Homo sapiens: one gene and its partners. The protein of the gene in region 1 purifies or fractionates together with the protein of each later gene. This does not show direct contact. Each region holds a gene or a part of one and is shown in the gene's direction. Other genes may lie near its edges. The genes, in order: ARHGAP23, FASTKD1, DLAT, SRFBP1 and ASF1B.

Region 1 (3,698 bases):
GCATTGTGGGCAACCATGGCCCAGGAGCCACATGCCTGTGACTCCTGAGTCCCTGACATGCTCTGGTTTTCTCAGAACTAATTAATGTGAGAGCAAGGACAGTGGCTGCAGTGGCCACAAGAGGCATCTGGGTCTCCATTCATTATTACACCATGGCTGAAACAAGAGGTGGTCTGTGAGGAGGGGTTGAAAGGGCAGCGTGACCTTGTCAGGTCATTCCAGCCCAAGACAGGAACCAGTCCCAGCGTCTGCTTCTACAAGGCTTCCTGTGTTAAGGGGACTTCATTCACCAATTGTTTGTTCATTTCATGTTTATTGAGCACCTGTTATGTGCCATGCAGAAACAACCAAGTCACAGCCTTTGCTCTTAAGGAGCTCAGAGTTTGATGAGGCTGATGTGAGAAGAGCTAGGAGCATAGTGAGATGACAGGAACATAGAGAAGTGATCTCCCATCTCAGGCAAAGGGAGGGCTGGGAAGTGGCTGTACAGAGGAAGCCATGTTCGAGCTGGGCCTTGTAGGGTGAGTAGGAGCTCATCCAGCAAATAGGGCAGGGGGACATTAAGGGCTGGCAGCAATGTAACAGTGTAGGTCACATCAAAGGAAGGGTTGGTAGGGCTGTATTTCCACAGTGAGGGCTGTGTTGGGGTTGGGGTCAGGGCAGAGCAGGGCAGTAGGCTGGGAAAGTTGGGGCTGGGTTATGAAGAGCCCCATGTGCTGAACTGGGGAACTTGTGCTTTATCCTGGTGGGTGCTGGGGCATGCAAGCTTCTGAGCAAAGCTGGGTGAGGATCAGATTCCTGCTTCAGAATGGTGGCTCTGGAGGAGAGACCCGGGCTGGGGCAAGGGTGGAGGCAGGAAACCCTATTAGGAGGGGCAGGAGGGCCCAGAGAGGGCAGAATGAGGGCCTGCCGGAGGAGGAGGAGGAGTTGGCTTTGGGAGCCATTTCAAAAGAATCCAGGACTTGGCTGTGGGTGGAGGAGAGAGGGAGGAGTCACAAGACCGCCCTAAGGTGAGCAGTGTGAATGGAGGCAGTTTGGGGCAGGGGTAGGTAGGATGCTGTGGTTCCGGATAGGTGAGTTTTAAGAGCCTACAGACACCCAGGTAGAAATGGATTCTCAATGGGAAGAAGAGTCCCGGAGCTCAAGTGAGTGTGGTGTTGGACAGGGAGGCCTGGATAGCAGCGCTGCTTGGGAATGGTATTTTCTAGGGAACACGAACAGAGAAGGCAAAGGGGCCAAAAACAGTCCTGGGAACACTGAGTCTCAGTGGGGAAGGCAGGGGAAGGCAGGGGCGGGGCGGGGGGCGGGCAAGAAGAACCTCCCAAGAGGCAGAGGAGAGGCCAGAAGGGCGGATGAAAACCAGCTTCCAGAAGGCCATGGGCGGCAGCATGGGCCCTCCTGGGAAAGTGTGAAAGGCCAAGGCCCCAAAACACCACAGGGTGTAGCAGTGAGGGCTGGTTCAGGTGAGAACAGCGGCATGAAGTTGCCCAACTTGGGGTTGGAAATCACAGTTTGGGAGCGGCTCCAATCCAAACCATGACACCATACGGGATCTTTCAGCCACTTGCAGGGGCGGAGCTGGCGGCGGGATTGACCTGGGATTGGGGATTGGCGGGGTGGGGAGCTGGTGGGGTCCGGCGGAAAGGGGAGGACGTGAACTTGGGCGGGTTGCCCTGGAGAGGCCTGTAGATGCTGGGCAGGTGGGAAGGCAGGTTTCCAGGTGGCAGCGGGTGGAGAGGAGGTGGGGGACTTGTGGTCAGAGAGCGCCCCTGGCGGGGATTTGGGGATCAGCATGCAGGAAGCTCTGGTGATGACACCCCAGGGGCGTGTGTGAAACGGATTCAGGCTGCCAAGCGTTATTCACTGTGGAGAGATTGTCATCACCAGAGCCGTGTCTAAAGGATTTAGCCAGGGCTGGATACGGAAAACAGAATGGAAGGGGGCTTTGGGAGACCAGCCCACCTCACAAGAAAGAGCTGAGAGCCTAGATTTGGGCCAGCGGGGGTAGTCTCTGGACGGAGGGCGGCACGGGGCTGGAGGAGGAGCGTTTTATGATGCGGCCGTGGGTGCTGGCCTTGGCTGGGGCTTGTGGCGACTGGGTGCCGTGACGTGGGGGTGGACCGGGTAGAGCGGGGTCGGCAGGGGGCCGAGTCCGGGCGCCCCCCGCATCCTGACCTGTCTCCCACACAGGGTTCGTGGGCCCCCAAGAAGGAGCCGTACGCCCGGGAGATGCTGGCGATCTCCTTCATCTCGGCCGTCAACCGCAAGCGCAAGAAGCGGCGGGAGGCGCGGGGGCTGGGCAGCAGCACCGACGACGACTCGGAGCAGGAGGCGCACAAGCCTGGGGCGGGGGCCACAGCGCCGGGGACTCAGGAGCGGCCGCAGGGGCCGCTGCCTGGCGCCGTCGCCCCCGAGGCCCCCGGACGCCTCAGTCCCCCGGCGGCGCCGGAGGAGCGGCCGGCCGCGGACACGCGCTCCATTGTGTCGGGCTACTCCACCCTGTCCACCATGGACCGCAGCGTGTGCTCGGGCGCTAGCGGTCGGCGGGCAGGGGCGGGGGATGAGGCGGACGACGAGCGTAGCGAGCTGAGCCACGTGGAGACGGACACTGAGGGCGCGGCGGGCGCGGGGCCTGGGGGGCGCCTGACACGCCGGCCGTCCTTCAGCTCGCACCACCTCATGCCCTGCGACACTCTGGCGCGCCGCCGCCTGGCCCGGGGCCGCCCAGACGGCGAGGGCGCGGGCCGGGGCGGTCCCCGCGCCCCGGAGCCGCCCGGCTCGGCGTCGTCCAGCAGCCAGGAGTCGCTGCGGCCCCCGGCGGCGGCGCTGGCCTCCCGGCCCTCGCGCATGGAGGCGCTGCGTCTAAGGCTCCGCGGCACGGCGGACGACATGCTCGCCGTGCGCCTGCGGCGGCCGCTGTCGCCCGAGACCCGGCGGCGCCGGAGCAGCTGGCGCCGCCACACCGTGGTGGTGCAGAGCCCGCTGACTGACCTCAACTTCAACGAGTGGAAGGAGCTGGGCGGAGGGGGCCCCCCGGAGCCTGCGGGCGCGCGGGCGCACAGTGACAACAAGGACTCCGGACTCAGCAGCCTGGAGTCCACCAAGGCGCGGGCCCCGTCGTCCGCTGCCTCGCAGCCGCCCGCGCCCGGGGACACGGGGTCCCTGCAGAGCCAGCCCCCGCGCCGCTCGGCCGCCTCCCGCCTGCATCAGTGTCTGTGATCCCCACCTCCCGCGCCGCTCGGGCGCCACCCCTCCCTAGAGCCCCTTTGGAACCAGGAGGCTTCACCAGCCTGCACCTCCTCTTCTGTGGCCCCTGGGTGCATGGTGTGGGTGGAGGGCGCAGCAGGCAGTGTCTCTAGTTGGTGTGCTGGAACTGGCAGGGCAGAGGAGAAGGCTGGGGCCGGACTAATTGAATGGAAGGGGGTTCCAGAGGTGATGAGCAGAAGAGGAGGGGGCGTGGGCTGCTGGGGTCTGTGTCCCTGCACACATGCGCCCGATAGGTCCTTCTGAGCCTTTCTGTGGCTGCACTTGGGGACCCTTGTGGACCATGGGGTGTGGCTAGGGAACCCCTAAGTTTCAGACTAAAGGAAAGATCCTGGGTGATGCTGGCTTTTTGCTTCTTTCTTCTGCCCTCCCACCTCAGCTTGTAAGCGGGGATGTGTGTATGTCTGGGGAGAGGAGGTGTAGGGTGCGTATGT
Region 2 (4,987 bases), on another chromosome or scaffold:
AATGATGCAACCTCTGCCTCCTGGGTTCAAGCGATTTTCCTGCCTCAGCCTCCTGAGTAGCTGGGATTACAGGTGCTCGCCACCACATCCAGCTAATTTTTATATTTTTAGTGGAGATGGGGTTTCACCATGTTGCCAGGCTGGTCTCAAACTCCTGACCACAAGTGATCTGCCCACCTCGGCCTCCCAAAGTTCTGGGATTACAGGCATGAGCCACCATGCCCAGCCCCTTGCCTTTTTTTTAAAAAAAATACACTTATGTGGCTGGGTGCAGTGGCTCATGCCTGTAATCCCAGCACTTTGGGAGGCTGAGGTGGGAGGATTGCTTAAGCCCAGGAGTTTGAGACCAGCCCTGGCAACATAGCAAGACTCTGTTTCTACAAAAAAAAAAAAAAAAAAAAAAAAGAATTGATCATTCTTAATTGATGTAAAAATCTTTGCATCTTTTTTCTTTTTCAGTTCCTTGTCTGTCTTGATGGTCAACATATCTTCTTTAATATCACGACATTTTCAACAACAACTGGTGAACAAAACAGAACTTCTTTTTGACACCATAGATTCTTCTGAGGTCAACGTTGCAAAAAGCATAGCAAAGTTTCTTCGAAATGTTAGATATCGTTATCAACCACTATTAGAAAGATGTAATAACGTATTTTTAAGTAATGTGGACCACCTTGATTTGGATTCCATCAGTAAAATACTTAGTGTATACAAATTTCTACAATTTAATAGTTTTGAATTTATTATAATGGCTAAAAAGAAGCTAACTGAAATGATTCCTCTGTGTAATCATCCTGCTAGCTTTGTAAAATTGTTTGTAGCATTGGGACCCATTGCAGGACCTGAAGAAAAGAAACAGTAAGTTCAGTTTAAAATGCATTACTTTTTTTGTTGTGAATACGTGGAGCCTTCAAGCTTAGGTCTCCTTGCAGCTCTGGAAGGTACAAATATCACCCTATTAGGTTGTGGAAGGGAAAATAATCTCTTATGCTCTGCTCCTTGATTCTTTTTCTGATTATTCTAATTTACATCTCAAACTCTTAGTCTGTTGCTGTGTTCTGAAAGGTAAACCTCTGATACTGGGCCAACATGAAAAAAAATGAGGGGAAACGCCATGTGTTTTTATTCTCCCTTTTGTGCTACATGACTGGATTTACACATATAAGACTCCCCCACCCAGTGTAAGTCTGTGGAATATTTAGAATTATAGTAGTCATAGCAGAGGGCCATTTTATGCTTTGCTGTCTTCATCACAATAATCATCAAAGCATTTATTATGCACTGGGCATATGTTCCCATGTCAGGTTTGAGCAAATTTTGTGTGGCGCCTCTCATTTAGGAATTTCCAGTTTTGCTAGATACTGATGTAGGTAGTAATATTTGAAATATAATGATGAGCAAATATTAAATTAACATACAAATACGGTTAATAGATAAGAGTTTCTCTTCCTAGGCCATGTGACTGGATTTATACTAGACATAAACTTCCCCCACCCAGCATAATTGTATGAAATATTTAGAATTACAAGCTGGGCACGGCGTTGCACGCCTTTAATCCCATCACTTTGGGAGGCCGAGGCAGGTGGATCCCTGGATCCCAGGAATTTGAGACCAGCCTAGGCAAGATGATGAAACCTTGTCTGTACAAAAAAATACAAAATTAGCCAGATGTGGTGGTGCCCACCTAGATTCCCAGCTACTCATGAGGATCACCTGAGCCCAAGGAGGTTGAGCCTGCAGTGAACTGACATTGCGCCATTGAATTCCAGCCTGGGCACAGAATGAAACCTTGTCTCAAAAGAAAAAATAAAAGAAAAAAATAAGAATTTTATATAATAGTCCTAACACATAAGTATGATTAGTAGATTCACTTAAGCAGGGGTTCCAAGACTTGCACAATAGGGGAATCTGTATCATTACTCTGTTAGGGAAAACTTTACGGAGAAAGTTTTATTTTTTAAGAGTACTTTGTGGCTGGGTGCGGTGGATCATGCCTGTAATCCCAGCACTTTGGGAGGCCAAGGCAGGTGGATCACCTGAGGTCGGGAGTTCAAGACCACCCAGACCAACATGGAGGAACCCCGTCTCTACTAAAAATACAAGATAAGTCGGGCATGATGGCAGCGCCTGTAGTCCCAGCTACTCGGGAGGCTGAGGCAGGAGAATCGCTTGAACCCGGGAGGTGCAGGTTGCAGTAAGCCAAGATCGCGCCATTACACTCCAGCCTGGGCAACAAGAGCGAAACTCTGACTCAAAAAAAAAAAAAAAGTACTTTGAATTATATGAAAAAATTTAAGAGCACATCTTAAGACTATATCAAGATGGAAACAAGGTGATTATTAAAAAAAACTATTGGGGCCCAGCACGGTGGTTCACACCTGTAATCTCAGCACTTTGGGAGGCCAATGCTGGCAGATCACTTGAAGTCGGGAGTTTGAGACCAGCCTGGCCAACATGGTGAAACCCCGACTCTACTAAAAATACAAAAAAAAAGGGCCGGGTGTGGTGGCTCATGCCTGTTATCCCAGCACCTTGGGAGGCTGAGGCGGTTGGATCACTTGAGGTCAGGAGTTCGAGACCAGCCTGGCCAACATGGTGAAACCCCGTTTCTAGTAAAAATATAAAAAATTAGCCGGGCGTGGTGGTGGGCACCTGTAATCTCAGCTACTTGGGAGGCTGAGGCAGGAGAATCGCTTGAACCTGGGAGACTGAGGTTGCAGTGAGCCAGGATTGCGCCATTGCACTCCAGCCTGGGCAACAGGAGCGAAACTCTGTCTCAAAAAACAAACAAAAAAATACAAAAAATAATTAGCCGGGAGTGATGGCAGGTGCAATGGTGGGCATCTCTAATCCCAGCTACTCTGGAGGCTGAGGCAGGAGAATCGCTTGAACCTGGGAGGCGGAGGTTGCAGTGAGCTATCATGCTCCTGCACTCCAGCCTGGGCAACAGAGTGAGACTCCATCTCAAAACAGACGAAGAAACACACACACGAACAAACTTTATTGGAACCGTTTTTTGTCACCAAGTACTGTTAAAATCTCAGTGCTAAAGCAATAAAACAGTTGGGTTTAACTGAGTCTGTCTTCAAGGAATTTATATTGCAATTGAGAGGATAGATATAATTGAAATATGTAAATACTGTAACAACATAGTTTATGAAGAAACAATAAAATTAGTGATATGGATAGTGCTGTGAGCAGACAGAAGTGAGAGAAAAATATAGACTGAAGTGGTTGGGAAAAGTTTGTGGAGAAACTGGGTTTGAAACCTTTGAAAAGGTTGGTGGAAAGGATGGCATGGAGTTATCCATGTGAATAGACAATTAGTTTATCCTATCAGATGTCACGTTTCGAGCTTGCTTTCTAAATGATTCTAAAAAATACACGTATCATGGTACTTAACATTACTGCACTACTTTGGATAGTTCAAATGACAACTAATCATAGTCAAAATGGACCAGCTTTGTTAATTTTCAGTTTATACTGTTATATCAAGTGCTTAGTATATGAGATTTCTGATAATATGCAGGTTTATTGACTCCTAGATGTTCCTATTCAGTTTTAAAACATTTGGGAAATTGTCAGAATATCAACTGTTCATTTCTTAGCTCTCTAGTATTGAATAATTTCACTGAATCATAGTATTTTATAACCATTATAACCTTGTATTATTTGAAAATCTTAAAATATCTTTTACCTGTATTTTTCAAACAGTTTAAGATTGGATTATAATGAGGCCTGAATTTCATTGAAGAAGACAATATATTTTTCTTTATTCAGTAATATTTTATATTCGAGTAATGTGGGGAGAACACTAGAATTATATATTGGATTCAGTTTTTGTTTATATTTTTTTTCCTATTTGTTACCCAAGAACTGTTATTTAAAAAAAATTGCAAGCTAATTTTCAGTCTTTCAACCAAAAACTTTTTTTTTTTTGCTTCTAGACTTAAATCAACTATGTTATTGATGTCAGAGGACCTAACTGGCGAGCAAGCCCTGGCAGTGTTGGGAGCAATGGGAGATATGGAAAGCAGAAACTCATGTCTGATTAAAAGGTATCTTTTCTGAAATTTACGACGTTAAGTTTGTTGTCATTCACAAGCACCTATTTTTTTCTAAGGAAAAATGGTTTTCTTCTTTAATCTACCAGTTGTTTTGAAGAAATAAGGAATTAATGCTTAAGCCACTGTTTATGTTCTACTTTGTTTTTCTTTTCTTTTTTTTTTTGTTTTTTTGAGACAGAGTCTCACTCTGTTGCCCAGGCTGGAGTGCAGTGGCACTATCTCTGCTTACTGCAACCTCTGCTTCCCTGGTTCAAGCAATTCTCTTGCCTCAGCCTCCTGAGTAGCTGGGACTACAGGCGCCCACCACCATGCCCCAGCTAATTTTGTTTGTTTGTTTGTTTGTTTGTTTTTGAGACAGAGTCTTGCTCTGTTGCCCAGGCTTGAGTGCAGTGGTGCCATCTCGGCTCACTGCAACCTCTGCCCCAGACGGGTTCAAGCGATTCTCCTGTCTCAGCCTCCTGAGTAGCCCGGATTACAGGCGTGTGCCACCACGCCTGGCTAATTTTTGTATTTTTTAGTAGAAGCGGGGTTTCACTGTGTTGGCCAGGCTGGTCTGGAGCTCCTGACCTCAAGTGATCCACCCACCTCAACCTCCCAGAGTGCTGGGATTACAGGCCTGAGCCACCGCACCCAGCCCTCCAGGCTGGTCTTGAACTCCTGACCTCAAGTGATCCGTTCACTTCGGCATCCCAAAGTGTTGAGCCACTGTGCCTGGCCGTTTTTTTTTTTGTTTTTTTTTTTTGAGACAGGGTATGGCTCTGTTGCTGAGGCTAGAGTGCAGTGGTGCCATCACAACTCACTGCACCCTCCACCTCCCAGGCTCAATTGATCCTCTCATCTCAGCCTCCTGAGTACCTGGGACTACAGGCACGTGTCGCCATGCCCACTAATTTTTGTATTTTTTGTAGACATGGTGTTTT
Region 3 (4,987 bases), on another chromosome or scaffold:
CCCAGGCTGGAGTGCAGTGGCGCAGTCTCAGCTCACTGCAAGCTCCACCTCCTGGGTTCACGCCATTCTCCTGCCTCAGCCTCCCGAGTAGCTGGGACTACAGGTGCCCGCTGCCACGCCTGGCTAATTTTTTGTATTTTTAGTAGAGATGGGGTTTCACTGTGTTAGCCAGGATGGCCTTGATCTCCTGACCTCGTGATCCACCTGTCTTGGCCTCCCAAAGCGCTGGGATTACAGGCGTGAGCCATGGCGATTTGTAGTATTATGAATTTCTTCTCTCTGCACCCCCGCTTTTTCTTTTTTTTTTTTGAGACAGAGTTTTGCTCTGTCACCCAGGCTTGAGTACAGTGGTGCGATCTTGGCTTACTGCAGCCTCCGCCTCCTGGGTTCAAGCAATTCTCCTGCCTCAGCCTCCCGAGTAGCTGGGACTACAGGCATGCACCACCATGCCTGGCTAATTTTTTGCATTTTTAGTAGAGATGGAGTTTCACCATGTTGGCCAGGCTGGTCTCGAGCTCTTTAACCTCAGGTGATCTGCCTGCCTCGGCCTCCCAAAGTGCTGGGATTACAGGCATAAGCCACCGCACCCAGCCTCTCTGCTTCATAATCACCACCAAAGGGAAGCCTTTCCCAAAGATGTAATGGGAGGTACTGGGCATCCTCTGCCTTGGTTGTTTTCAGATTGTGTTCTTCAAATCCCATCATTCCTTTAAGGCACCTTGAGGCAAAGGGGGAATTAAAGAGCAGGACCTTACAGCCCTGCCTCCCTGCCTTACTTCCAGCAGAGCAGTTCTTTTCTATCTTTTTGTATTTTGTGCTTCCCCATAAATTTTATTTGAAGAAAGGATTCTGTTTCTTAAAAACACAGAAACTTTGGAAACAGTAGTTCTGCTTCACCATTTAACTTGAATACCAGTGTCACTATAGAGACTAGTCACTAGAGAAGTGTTACCTTGGTTGAACTTTGAAGTCTATTGTGGCCCAGGAGCCTTTTCATTTTAAACACTTCTTTTTTTTTTTTTTGGAAACAGAGTCTGGCTCTGTTGTCCAGGCTGGAGTGCGGTGGCGTGATCTCGGCCCACCACAACCTCTGCCTCCTGGGTTCAAGCGATTCTCCTGCCTGAGCCTCCTGAGTAGCTGGGACTACAGGTGCATGCCACTACGCCCGGCTAATTTTTGTATTTTTAGTAGAAATGTGGTTTCACTATGTGGGCCAGGCTGGTCTTGAACTCCTGACCTCGTGATCTGACTGCCTTGTGCCTCCCAAAGTGCTGGGATTACAGGCGTGAGCCACCACCGCACCCAGCCTTTTTTTTTTTTTTTTTTGAGATAGAGTCTTGCTTTGTCGCCCAGGCTGGAGTGCAATGGCATGATCTTGGCTCACTGCAATTTCCACCTCCCGGGTTCAAGCAATTCTCCTGCCTCAGCTGCCCAAGTAGCTGGGATTACAGGCGCCTGCCACCATGCCTGGCTAATTTTTGTATTTTTAGTGGAGATGGGGTTTCACCATGTTGGCCAGGCTGGTCTTGAACTCCTGACCTCAGGTAATCCACCTACCTTGGCCTCCCAAAGTGCTGGGATAACAGGCGTGAGCCACCGTGCCCAGCCTTAAACATATATATATATATCTCCAGACTTAAACATATATATATGTGTGTGTATATATATATATGTGTGTGTATATATGTGTGTGTGTGTGTGTGTGTGTGTGTGTGTGTGTTTTTTTTTTTTTTTTTTTTTTTTTTTTTGAGACGGAGTTTCGCTCTTGTTGCCCAGGCTGGAGTGCAATGGCACGATCTCGGCTCACCACAACCTCCACCTCCTGGGTTCAAGTGATTTTCTTGCCTCAGCCTCCCGAGTAGCTGGGATTACAGGCATGCGCCACCATGCCTGGCTAATTTTGTATTTTTAGTAGAGACGGGGTTTCTCCACGTTGGTCAGGCTGGTCTCGAACTCCCGACCTCAGGTGATCCACCCGCCTCGGTCTCCCAAAGTGCTGGGATTACAGGCATGAGCCGCCGCGCCCAGCCTAAACATATTTTTTATTGGGTATTCTCAGCTGGGAAATGGAAGGATTCATCAAAGATGTGTTCATCAAGGAGAGGCACAACAGTACAGAAAGCCAATGGCTTCTTTTAGTTTTACTTTTGCAATCCTAAATGTTTAAGTTCTTTGCAAGGAAGGCAGTAGTTGAATAAAATATAAGTTGTCAACACCATAGAAATCCCAGTAAAGCTGTAATTCTTTACATTGAAATACTTGGTATAATATCAAGTATAACCTCTTTGAAAAGTTCCAAAGATGCTTTTAGGGCTGAAATCCAACATTAGTATCTAGGTTGGTAGCTCCCTTAATTAGGCATGTATGTGGTTCTTATCTTTAGCAGCATAGCTGACACCATCTTAGAGTCCTGTGAGTCTGCATGGGGACTGTCCTTGGAGATTTTTTAATAACTTTGAGAACTAACCACTGTCTGTAATCTTTCATAGTTTTATTGAACAGATTTTTATTTGGCATTTACTTTGTACCAGGTTGTATTATTTCTAAGAACTTGAAAAATATTAATCTGTTTAAATGTATAACATCCCAGTACCAATCCAGTGAGATTGGTACTATTATTATCCCCGTATTGTAGGTAAAGAAACCAAGACACAGAAGGTTAAATAGGTTGCAAAAAAGGCTATATAGCTAGCTTGAATGAGAAAAATCACTTTACTTAAAACTGTGCTGTGAGTTTGGAGGGATAGTGGAATCTCTTAAGTCCCATAATGTTTTTTCTTTCTATTTAAGGTTTTGAAGTACAGGAAGAAGGTTATCTGGCAAAAATCCTGGTCCCTGAAGGCACAAGAGATGTCCCTCTAGGAACCCCACTCTGTATCATTGTAGAAAAAGAGGCAGATATATCAGCATTTGCTGACTATAGGCCAACCGAAGTAACAGATTTAAAACCACAAGTGCCACCACCTACCCCACCCCCGGTAGGTATGCTTCTAGAATTCAGGAAACACTTACCTTGTTCATCTCTAAATTAAGGAGTTTTGATTAGATGATATCCTAGGTTCCTTCCACCTCCAAGATTCTATGACTGAGGAGGGAGATAGTTTATTAACATTTGTGGAGACCTATAGTGTTTGTTGTACTGCACTGTTCACCTAATGGTTGATAGTTTGGGCCTTGTAGCTTTTTTCTTCCTGCTATCTAGAGTCCTGCTGAGAACAAAGCTGAGTGACATGTTCTCTTTCTGCTTTAGATACAGATACCATGCTTGTGGAAAGTAAGGCTTCATTGCCCCACCCTTTTTTTTTTTTTTTAAGAGACAAGGTCTCACCCTGTTGCTGAGGCTGGAGTGCAGTGGTGCAATCATAGCTCACTTCATTGCCCATTTATTATTAAATATACTGAATAATCTCTGTCACTTGAAATCCTCTTGTTATTGACTTAGTAGGTCAAGCATATATTTGTGATACAGTGGAACCTTGACATGACTTGTTTTGCCTAGAATTTATTATATCACCAAATACTTGATACACTATATAACTATAACCTGAACTTGTATAACTCCAACCAGAGATAACACTGACAGTGAAGCTTCAGTGATTCTCACAGATGCTAGAATCATGTGAGTTTAAACTAGGTAAACATTTCTATAAGAGAAAAGTTGATTTCTGACTACTGTACATTTGTGGGAAGCTGGCAAGTAGCATTGTTGTTGGATTTCTTTTGTTGTTGTTGTTGAGACGGAGTCTTGCTCCGTCACCCAGGCTGGCGTGCAGTGGCGTGATCTTGGCTCACTGCAGCCTATGCCTCCCGGGTTCAAGCAATTCTCCTGCCTCGACCTCCCGAGTAGCTGGGATTACAGGTGTTAGCCACCATGCCCGGCTAATTTTTTTATTTTTAGTAGAGAAGGGGTTTCACCGTGTTGGCCAGGCTGGTCACGAACTCCTGACCTCAGGTGATCCACCCACCTCGGCCTCCCAAAGTGCTGGGATTACAGGTGTGAGCCACCACACCTGGCCGTATTTCTTAAGATACTTTTCAACATGGGGCCTTACAGCATAATTTTATATTTTGAAATTAGCTGGCTGGGTGTGGTGGCTCATGCCAGTAATCCCAGCACTTTGGGAGGCTGAGGCAGGTGGATCGCTTGAGGTCAGGAGTTCAAGACCAGCCTGGCCAACATGGTGAAACCCCATCTCTACTGAAAATACAAAAAATTAGCTGGGCGTGGTGGTGCGTGCCTTTAATCCCAGCTACTTGGGAGGCTGAGGCAGGAGAATTGCTTGAACCCAGGAGGCGGAGGTTGCAGTGAGCCAAGTTTGCGCCACTGCACTCCAGCCTGGGTGACAGAGCAAGACTCTGTCTCAAATAAAAAGAAAAAAAAAAAAGAAGTTAGGATAATTAAAAATAAAAATCATGTTGGTGATGTAAAAGAATGCGAATAAAGAAGTGGTAAGAGATTAAAGTGAAGAAAGGCTGTAGAATACTATACACTGATTGGCAATATTCAATTCTGTGCTTCATGTTGTTATGGAATAAGGTAACTGTTCTGTCTTTGATATAGAAGTATATTGTTCTCGCTGTTCGTATTACTACATTATGTTGGTTAAGCTGGCGAAAAGTACATTATGATCTTTGGAAAAATGAAAGTTATTAATATTTAATTAAAATAGTTTTAATTTATTAATAAGATGTAAACTTTTAATCTTTCAGACCAGTCTTTGAAGTGGTGAATTAAAACAATTTGTAATTTTTTTTCAAAAGGTGGCCGCTGTTCCTCCAACTCCCCAGCCTTTAGCTCCTACACCTTCAGCACCCTGCCCAGCTACTCCTGCTGGACCAAAGGGAAGGGTGTTTGTTAGCCCTCTTGCAAAGAAGTTGGCAGTAGAGAAAGGGATTGATCTTACACAAGTAAAAGGTAAATCTGTTTCTATAGAATGGACTTTATAAAGTTAAAATTTAGTTGAATTTCCTCCTTAAGACTTGCAAG
Region 4 (3,864 bases), on another chromosome or scaffold:
TTGCCATTTTCCAACATATGGGTTTGGTTAGTAAATTGAGGTGTGTTTTGGGAGTGGGGGAAATGGACAGTGTAGGATAGTGGCGTGTTTGTTATTTAGAGATTTATTACGCTTTTCTAAAAAGAAATGAAGTGATTATCCATTACACTATAAGTCTAAAATTAATGCTTTGCCTGGCTACATATCGTAATGTATTTTTTGCAGGGGTACTGAAGATGCACTGTTAAAAAACCAAAGACGGGCGCAAAGATTGCTTGAAGAAATCCATGCCATGAAGGTAAGGACTTGTGTGGGTGTGTATGTGTGTATGTTTCTGAGTATCCTGTTATCCTGCATTTTGTTTGTGTGTGGTATTGCTTATTTGAATATTCCCGAGAGTTGCGTAAGACATCTTGTATCAGTCTGTTTGGTGAAGAATGTAGCACATTTAGAAAATTGTAACATTTAAGCTTGCATTTTTCTGTTTTTGACTGAATTTGTTAAAGTGCTAGGCTAATTTGAGTCAAAATTGTGCCAAACTAAATTCATCTATGTTTAATAATGCCTCCTGCCTCAGGTTTTTATTTTTACTGTAACTTTAGCACGAAGTCAGTTCAAGAATTAAAGTCTTCATGCTATTTGGGAATGTGGATGGTGATATTGGTGGCTGACATCATGCTTTCCTTGTTGCCAGCTCAATAAATTTTTATGTATTGGTATCGGCATTTTATTCAGTTCTGTAGTAACTTCAAATAAAATTAGTGTTAGACCAATGTGATCCCATATTTTTGTTTTTTTTTTCAGTCAGACTCTTCACTAGCATAATTTTTAGGTCTTCTTGCTGCTCTTACTTTGAGGAAACTTTCATTTACCAAATGACATGACATTAAATGTCTGGGAGACTGTTTTACTGTAGAACTTAAAAACAACATTTGGTCCCAGCAATTTTCTTAATTGCAGGGTCATTTTGCATGCATGTTTGCCTATTATATTTTGGTATAACTTTCAAGTTTTGAATTAAGTAAAAGAGAAATAAAACTCTCTAACTATTTTAATTGAGTTAAGTTATCAAAGATTCTCAGCCTTTCTTCCTTTTAAACGGATAGTAAAGTGTTTAATAGGACAAAGTTATCCCAGTTAATCTGAATAAAAACATCTAGGAAACGACTCTTTGATATGAAGTATATTTGTTTCTTGTGTTCTTCCTTCCCTCTGCTGCACACTATTATAAAATTCATGGAATCCATCTGATATAACTTTTATTTCTCAAGGTTATAATTCCCTTTTTATTCAGTCCTTCAGGAAAAAAAAGTCTTCTGTATTTGACTGTCAGTGATCATTTGTGTCTCTGTGGTTTGCAGATTATTTAGTTTTTTCATATACCTTTTTAAAATGATATTCCTATGAGAAATAAAATCTTTAGAGATTTTGTCTTGAGAATAGCAATAAAATAGGAAGTTACAATTTATCTCTTTCACTTTCTCTTAACCAAGGTTCTTACTAAATTACATTGCCTACCTAAATTTTTCCCTGTAATTTCTTCTGAATAGTCATTTTTGTAGTCTTAAATTATTCAGAGGCTTTGAGCTACTATATAATTGCTGATTTTATTTTACCATGGAAAGAATGCAGTGTGTGTGTGTATGCATGTATATATATATATAATATATATATGTGCATACACATACACATACAATGTATAGTTGGCTACTCTGACTTTAACTTCTTTTGTAATACTGTTTAAAAACTGGAGTAAACTGGAATTTGTTAAATTTTTTATATATATAAAAAATATATACATACACACACACTACATTCTTTCCATGGTTTGTTATATATAATAACTTGTATGTGGTGTATGAAGAGTTTGAGAACAAAAGATACTCAATCTTTAGAATACTTCCCTTTTGTAAATTTCAGTGATACATTTGATTAATTAGAAAGAAAAGTTGTCCTTTTTGATCTAAATGTAAAGCCTGTTTTCTGTTTCTTGTTTTGAATCTCATCAGCAAAGGGAAATCTGATTCAGTGATAAAGTTTGTAGGTTTACAAGATTACCACATCACTATCGTGGTTTGGTTTGGTTTGGTTTGGTTTGATTTGTGTTCTATTTTTCCCTGTGATTGCGCAATGGAATGGTTGCATCATAGAAAGCCAAATTCATAGCCTATGTATTCCTTAAATTCATAAAATTCATAGTATATATATGTCTTGAGTTTGTGGCAGGAGTTAGGGCAGGCTGGGTTGGCTACTCTGACTTCAACTTCTTTTGTAATGCTTTTTAAAAACTGGAATGAATTTAAATATAAAATGAATACTAGAAAGACTATATATTTGCTGTTCTTACGTGTCAAATTTTATTCCTTATTTATGGTTCTTTTACAAATTTTGTTGTCTTTTCTAAACAAAGCAAATAAATAAAGCATTTTTCTTAATTAAAAGGTCATTTGTAATTTTCTTAGGAAATGGTTATTACCTACTTGGGAGTATCAAATAAATGATGACAAAACAAACTCTCAATCTCAATTAAATTTGGAGAAAAGACCTCTGCTCATTTATTTTTCCAGAGAAATTTTTTCCTTGGCTCAGACACTGCTTCATTTTTATAGTCTTATTGATGACATACTATCCTATTCTTGCTTTCTATAATAATAGGGTATTTTGTTGCAGGATGACTTCTTTGTGAAGAAATCATGAGTATTTTTAGAAATGAGAGTTTGCTTTTTCTGGCCAACTAAGAAAAAAAATTGGCTTGATCTTTACACTATAAAATCATAGGTTCTAATTTTATAGACTATGGTGTATGAAACCCAAGTCTTTGCTGCCTTTTCTATAATAGTGTCCATACTTTTAACTTTGATATTAGTAGAAATATTGCCTTCTAAAACAGTTTCTTTTTCTTTGAAAGTTAGTTAAATTAGCCTATCAACACTTATAGATCAGTAAGTTACTTAACTGGAGAAGGAGATGGTAAAATTCAAGCATATACTGAAATTACTCAAAATGTGCAACAAGTCTCTTACTCAATAATAAAAGTAACAACTAGCTTTTACTGAGCATTTACTATGTGCCAGGCATTATATTATGTGTTTTATATTTACTGTCTCACTAGGTAGATATCATTTTTATCCCTGTCTTACAGAATAAGAAACTCAAGCTTAGAGAAACTGAGCAACTTATAACTGATTATAAAGCTAATTATGTTATCCACTGTAGTATACTGCTTCAGTAAGTTGAGAACATCCTATGATATATCCAGACTCACTTTCCTAGATATTGGAGGAGATAATTTAGTAAACATGAAACTTGCCATCTAGGAAAAAAAAGACTGAAAGATGTGCAACGTGTTTTCAGATCCTTTAATTCCTGACAGGTAAATATACACAGTAGCCTATATCTGTATTTCTTTTTTTTTTACTTGAGATGGAGTCTCTCTCTGTCGCCCATGCTGGAGTGCAGTGACCCGATCTCTGCTCACTGTAACCTCCGCCTCCTGGGTTCAAATGATTCTCCTGCCACAGTCTCCTGAGTAACTGGGACTACAGTTGCCTGCCATCATGCCTGGCTAACTTTTGTATTTTTAGTAGAGACAAGGTGTTGCCATGTTGGCCAGGCTGGTCTCGAACGCCTGACCTCAGGTGATCCGCCCACCTCGGCCTCCCATAGTACTGGGATTACAGGCGTGAGCAACCACTCCTGGCCTATCTGTATTCTTTTTTAACCTCTTCCTCTCTTAAGGCTGTTACTTCTTCCTATCCTGAATATTCTTTAAGATGAGAATTTATGTATTCTTCTTTGAGACCTTGTTCTGCCTGCTACCTCTTACTTCTCCTCTAGTTTAAAACTTTCTCCTTTTGTTCTATTCTTCCCCTAGTTTTACATTCT
Region 5 (4,987 bases), on another chromosome or scaffold:
TCATCTTGGGGTTACAAATAAACTTAGCAGGTAGGTGAACTTGCACATATGGAACCCATGAATAATGAGGATGGACTGTAACTCCTAAATGGCTCTCATGCAGCACCCCACCTGGGTTGTCAAATGTAGATTCTGGCCGGGTGTGGTGGCTTCCAGCACTTTGGGAGGCAGAGGCGGGAGGACTGCTTAAGGCCAGGAGTTCCAGACTAGCCTGGGCCACATAGCGAGACCCCCATCTCTACAAAAAATAGAAAAATTAGCCGGGTGTGGTGGCTTGCACCTGTCGTCCCAGCTACTTGGGAGGCTGAAGCAGGAGGCTTGCTTGAGCCTGAGAGTTTGAGGCTACAGCGAGCTATGATTGCACCTCTGCACTGCATTCTGGGTGACAGCGAGACCTGTCTCTACAAAAAAAACATTAACCAGGCATAGTGATGCAGGCCTGTAGTGCCAGCTACTAGGGAGGCTGAAGCAGAAGACTCACTTGAGGCCAGGTGCCATGGCTCACACCTGTAATCTCAACACTTTGGGAGGCTGGGGCAGGCAGATCACTTGGGGTCAGGAGTTAAAGACTAGCCTGGCCAACATGGTGAAACCCTGTCTCTACTAAAAAATACAAAAATTAGCTGGATGTGGTGGTGCACATTTGTTATCCTAGCTACTCGGGAGGCTGAGGCACGAGAATTATTTGAATCCAGGGGGCGGAAGTTACAGTGAGCTGAGATTGCGCCACTGCACTCGAGCCTGGGCAACAGAGTGAGACCCTGTCTCTAAAAAAAAAAAAAAAAAAAAATAGGCTCGCTTGAGCCCAGGAGTTCCAGGAGTTTACAGTGATCTGTGATTGCACCACTGCACTCCAGTCTGGATGACAGAGGGAAAAGCTATCTCTTTAAAAAAAGAAGGCCGGTGCAGTGGCTCACGCCTGTAATCCCAGCACTTTGGAAGGCCAAGGTGGGCGGATCACAAGGTCAGGAGATTGAGACCATCTTGGCTAACATGGTGAAGCCCCATCTCTACTAAAAAATACAAGAAATTAGCCAGGCCTGGTGGCGGGCACCTGTAGTCTCAGCTACTCAGGAGGCTGAGGCAGGAGAATGGCGTGAACCTGGGAGGCGGAGCTTGCAGTGAGCCGAGATCACGCCACTGCACTCCAGCCTGGGTGACAGTGAGACTCCATCTCAAAAAAAAAAAAAAAAAAAAAGAAGAAAGAAAAAACAAATGGAGATTCTGAGTTCTCCAGGTGATTTTTCAGGATCCTCTGCTCGGATACACTCCCTTACCTCCATCACTGCTGTTACCGCCCTAATCCAAGCTACCACATCCTATCTAACCCCTTCAGCCACCACTACTAAATCCACTGACAGGCCCTATCTACTCAACAGTCAGGACTGGCCTCCTGGGTGTGCAACCCAGGCAGCTGCACAGGACCCCACACTTGGTGCGATACTCTGCTGTCACCGTCTGAAACCTAATAGCTTTTCTGGAGGGGCGTGGTGTTTTCATTTTGCATTGGTTTTATTTTGCACCAATTACGTGGCTGGTCTTGTTTGCAGTAGTACACCCTGAATCTGTTCTTTACTGCCTGGTCTAAGCCAAGTCCACTGCCTCTCCAGGATGACTGGTGTAAGCCTTCTGCTCCACTACAGTCTCCTGTCACGGCTCCACACTTTGCCAGAGGCTTCTTTTCAGATCACAAGAGTGATGTGGCACTTAACCTCCTGCTTACTCTCTTGCCCTTTCCCAATCCCTTAGCTGGCCCCCGGGTGGCCTGATACCACCTGCCTCACCTGTTCAGCTTCATGCCACTGTCCCCCGGCTCACCACACTCCTCCAGAGTACCACGCACCTCTCCCTGCCACAGTCAACGTTTTGTAGTCATTTGTGGGATTGATTCTGTGTTTCCATCAGTTGACAACTCCTGGCTGGGCACAGTGACTCACACCTGTAATCCCAGCCCTTTGGGAGGCTGAGGTGAGAGGATCGCTTGAGCCCAGGAGTTTGAGACCAGCCTGGGCAACATGGAGAAACCCTGTCTCTACAAAAAATAATTGGCTAGACATGTTGGCACACACCGTTGTCCCAGCTATTTGGGAGGCTGAAGCAGGAGGATTGCTTGAGCCCAGGAGTTCAAGGATGCAGTGAGCCATGATGGCGCCATTGCACTCCAGCCTGGGTAACAGAGGGAGGCCAGACCCTGTGTAAAAAAAAAAAAAGTCCAGGCGCAATGGCTCACACCTGTAATCCCAACACTTTGGGAGGCCGAGGTGGGCAGATCACCTGAAGTCAGGAGTTTAAGACCAGCCTGGCCAACATGGTGAAATCCCGTCTGTACTAAAAATACAAAAAAAAGGCTGGGCGCAGTGGCTCACACCTGTAATCCCAACACTTTAGGAGTCCAAGACGGGTGGATCACCTGAGGTCAGGAGTTCGAGACCAGCCTGGCCAACATGGCGAAACCCCATCTCTACTAAAAATACAAAAATTAGCCGGGCATGGTGGTGGGCACCTGTAATCCCAGCTACTCGGGAGGCTGAGGCAGGAGAATCGCTTGAACCCGTGAGGCGGAGGTTGCAGTGAGCCGAGATCGCACCATTGCACTTCAGCCTGGGCAACAGAGCAAAACTCCATTAAAAAAAAATACCAAAAAAAAAAAAAAGTTAGCCGGGTGTGGTGGTGTGTGCCTGTAGTCCCAGCTGCCTGGGATGCTGAGGCAGAATTGTTTGAACCCGAGAGGCAGAAGTAAAAAAAAGAAAACTGAGGGCAGAGAGCATACTTTTTGCTCAGTAAATACATGATGCTTGGGAATCTTTGTACTAATGACATCGAGGCATGGCTGTGGCACTGCTAAGGCCTAGGATGTGTCTCCCCTAGGCCGACGCCCCCAACCCATCCCTCATCCCAGAGACTGATGCCGTGGGTGTGACTGTGGTCCTCATCACCTGCACCTACCATGGACAGGAGTTCATCCGAGTGGGCTACTACGTCAACAACGAGTACCTCAACCCTGAGCTGCGTGAGAACCCGCCCATGAAGCCAGATTTCTCCCAGGTGGGGCCTGTTTCCACTTCCTGCTTCCCACAAGGCCGTTCTTTATACTTGGGGGGAGTTCAGCCATTCAAATTGAGAGTCAAGGTCACTTCTTAAGGTTTTCAAGTAATATTCAGTTCTTACAGTACTGTGTTAGAAGAGGAGAAAAAGACCTTTGTCTCTCAAAGGCATGTCTTAGAGAATTAAGATTAGGCCAGCCTGGGCAACATAGTGAGACCCTGTCCCTAACCCCCGCAAAAAAAAAAAAAAAAAAAAATGAGCCAGACATGGGTGGTGTGCTCTACTCTGGAGGCTGAGGTGGGAGGATCGCTTGAGCCCAGGAGTTTGAGGCTGCAGTGAGCTCAGATCGTGCCACTGCATTCCAGCCTGACCAACAGAGTGAGACTGTCCCTTAAAAAAAAAAAGTCCTGGGCCAGGCACAGTGGCTCACGCGTTGTAATCCCAGCACTTTGGGAGGCCGAGGCTGTAGGATCACCTGAGGTCAGGAGTTTGAGACCAGCCTGGCCAACATGGTGAAAGCCCGTCTCTACTAAAAATACGAAAATGAGCCAGGTATGGTGCCTTGCACCTGTAGTCCCAGCTACACAGGAGGCTGAGGCAAGAGAATCGCTTGAACCCGGAAGGCAGAGGTTGCAGTGAGACGAGATCACAGCATTGCACTCCAGCCTGGGCAACAAAAGCAAAACTCCGTCTCAAAAAATAAATAAATAAATAAATAAATAAGGTCCTGGCCACAGGTGTTTTCTGGAGTTCCATATGTAGGTTGCTCTTGCTGGGCTTGAGATGGGTGATTGGGGGTGTCCTGGCTCTATGGGACCAAGGAGAGGGCGTACCTACAAGGGTTGACGTTCCTCTTCCTGCCCCAGCTCCAGCGGAACATCTTGGCCTCGAACCCCCGGGTGACCCGCTTCCATATCAACTGGGACAACAACATGGACAGGCTGGAGGCCATAGAGACCCAGGACCCCTCCCTGGGCTGCGGCCTCCCACTCAACTGCACTCCTATCAAGGGCTTGGGGCTCCCTGGCTGCATCCCTGGCCTCCTCCCTGAGAACTCCATGGACTGCATCTAACTGCAGGAACCCAGAGTGTCCCAGCACGCCGGGAGGGGCAACCAGGCCTCCCAGCGAGTCCTGCAGGGCCCATCTAGAGGACTTTGGGGGCCATCAGCTGCAATCCAGGTCTGTCAAACTCAGCCCCTAGGAAAGAACAGGCCTTGGGTCTCCCCTAGTCCTGGCCAGAAGGATGATCTCGCTTTTCCTCTACAGGCCTATAAGAAGCAGGTACTTCAGTTCTAAATTCTGACTTGTGTTCTTTTCGTCTTCATAAATTCTAACTAAGGCCACTGTGCCACTGTGCACCCTTGAGTACCATTGATCCAAAGCTTTCCCACAGACCTCCCTGGCCCACCTAGAGGCTTTCTTGGTCAGTGCCTGTCAAGGCTCCAGTCCTGCTGAGCCAAAGGCTTTGTCATTCCTTTCTCTTCCTGTACATCTGAGCAGACCCACTCCAGCTTTCTGGTGTCACAGGCGGGAATGTTAGTTAGTAGGTAGACTTAGATCCCATTTCTGTCCTGCTCCCAGGAAGATTCTTAGGTCCTCTTCAATCCAGCAGCCCCTCCCAGAGGTGTGATCAGCAGGATGCTGAGGAACCATGTTGCCTTTCCTGTCAATCACAGCCACCTTCCTGTTATCTCCTAAATGGATCTGGCTTTTCCTGGAGGCTGCCATGGTTGGAAGATGGTATCAGAGGGCCTGCCTGGGCAGTCTGTCTCCGGGCCAGGGTCAGGGACCCTCTGCCTCTGGCAGCCTTAACCTGTCCTCTGCTAGGACCAGGGTGATTTCAAGCCAGGGAAGCAACTGGGACCCTGAAAACTGTCCCTCCCCAGCCCGCTCCCCCTCTCTGTGCCCTGGTCCCCTTGCTGCCATGTGGATGCTGTTGT

Evidence for each region.
Region 2: the proteins of ARHGAP23 (region 1) and FASTKD1 purify together in Homo sapiens (affinity purification with mass spectrometry; one large-scale study listed by BioGRID and IntAct). This does not show direct contact.
Region 3: the proteins of ARHGAP23 (region 1) and DLAT purify together in Homo sapiens (affinity purification with mass spectrometry; one large-scale study listed by BioGRID and IntAct). This does not show direct contact.
Region 4: the proteins of ARHGAP23 (region 1) and SRFBP1 purify together in Homo sapiens (affinity purification with mass spectrometry; one large-scale study listed by BioGRID and IntAct). This does not show direct contact.
Region 5: the proteins of ARHGAP23 (region 1) and ASF1B purify together in Homo sapiens (co-immunoprecipitation; one large-scale study listed by IntAct). This does not show direct contact.

The regions. Positions count from the first base shown.
Region 1 is NC_000017.11:38,507,754-38,511,451, forward strand, and holds part of ARHGAP23 (rho GTPase-activating protein 23), read left to right. Parts: intron 1-2,190; coding exon 2,191-3,219; 3' UTR 3,220-3,698.
Region 2 is NC_000002.12:169,556,258-169,561,244, reverse strand, and holds part of FASTKD1 (FAST kinase domain-containing protein 1, mitochondrial), read left to right. Parts: intron 1-459; coding exon 460-858; intron 859-864; exon of another isoform or gene 865-2,321; coding exon of another isoform or gene 2,322-2,332; intron 2,333-3,947; coding exon 3,948-4,058; intron 4,059-4,987. UniProt on the Homo sapiens protein: Involved in the down-regulation of mitochondrial MT-ND3 mRNA levels which leads to decreased respiratory complex I abundance and activity.
Region 3 is NC_000011.10:112,034,483-112,039,469, forward strand, and holds part of DLAT (dihydrolipoyllysine-residue acetyltransferase component of pyruvate dehydrogenase complex, mitochondrial isoform 2 precursor), read left to right. Parts: intron 1-2,790; coding exon 2,791-2,978; intron 2,979-4,761; coding exon 4,762-4,915; intron 4,916-4,987.
Region 4 is NC_000005.10:121,975,111-121,978,974, forward strand, and holds part of SRFBP1 (serum response factor-binding protein 1), read left to right. Parts: intron 1-204; coding exon 205-277; intron 278-3,864. UniProt on the Homo sapiens protein: May be involved in regulating transcriptional activation of cardiac genes during the aging process. May play a role in biosynthesis and/or processing of SLC2A4 in adipose cells.
Region 5 is NC_000019.10:14,119,590-14,124,576, reverse strand, and holds part of ASF1B (histone chaperone ASF1B), read left to right. Parts: intron 1-2,868; coding exon 2,869-3,045; intron 3,046-3,911; coding exon 3,912-4,118; 3' UTR 4,119-4,987. UniProt on the Homo sapiens protein: Histone chaperone that facilitates histone deposition and histone exchange and removal during nucleosome assembly and disassembly. Cooperates with chromatin assembly factor 1 (CAF-1) to promote replication-dependent chromatin assembly.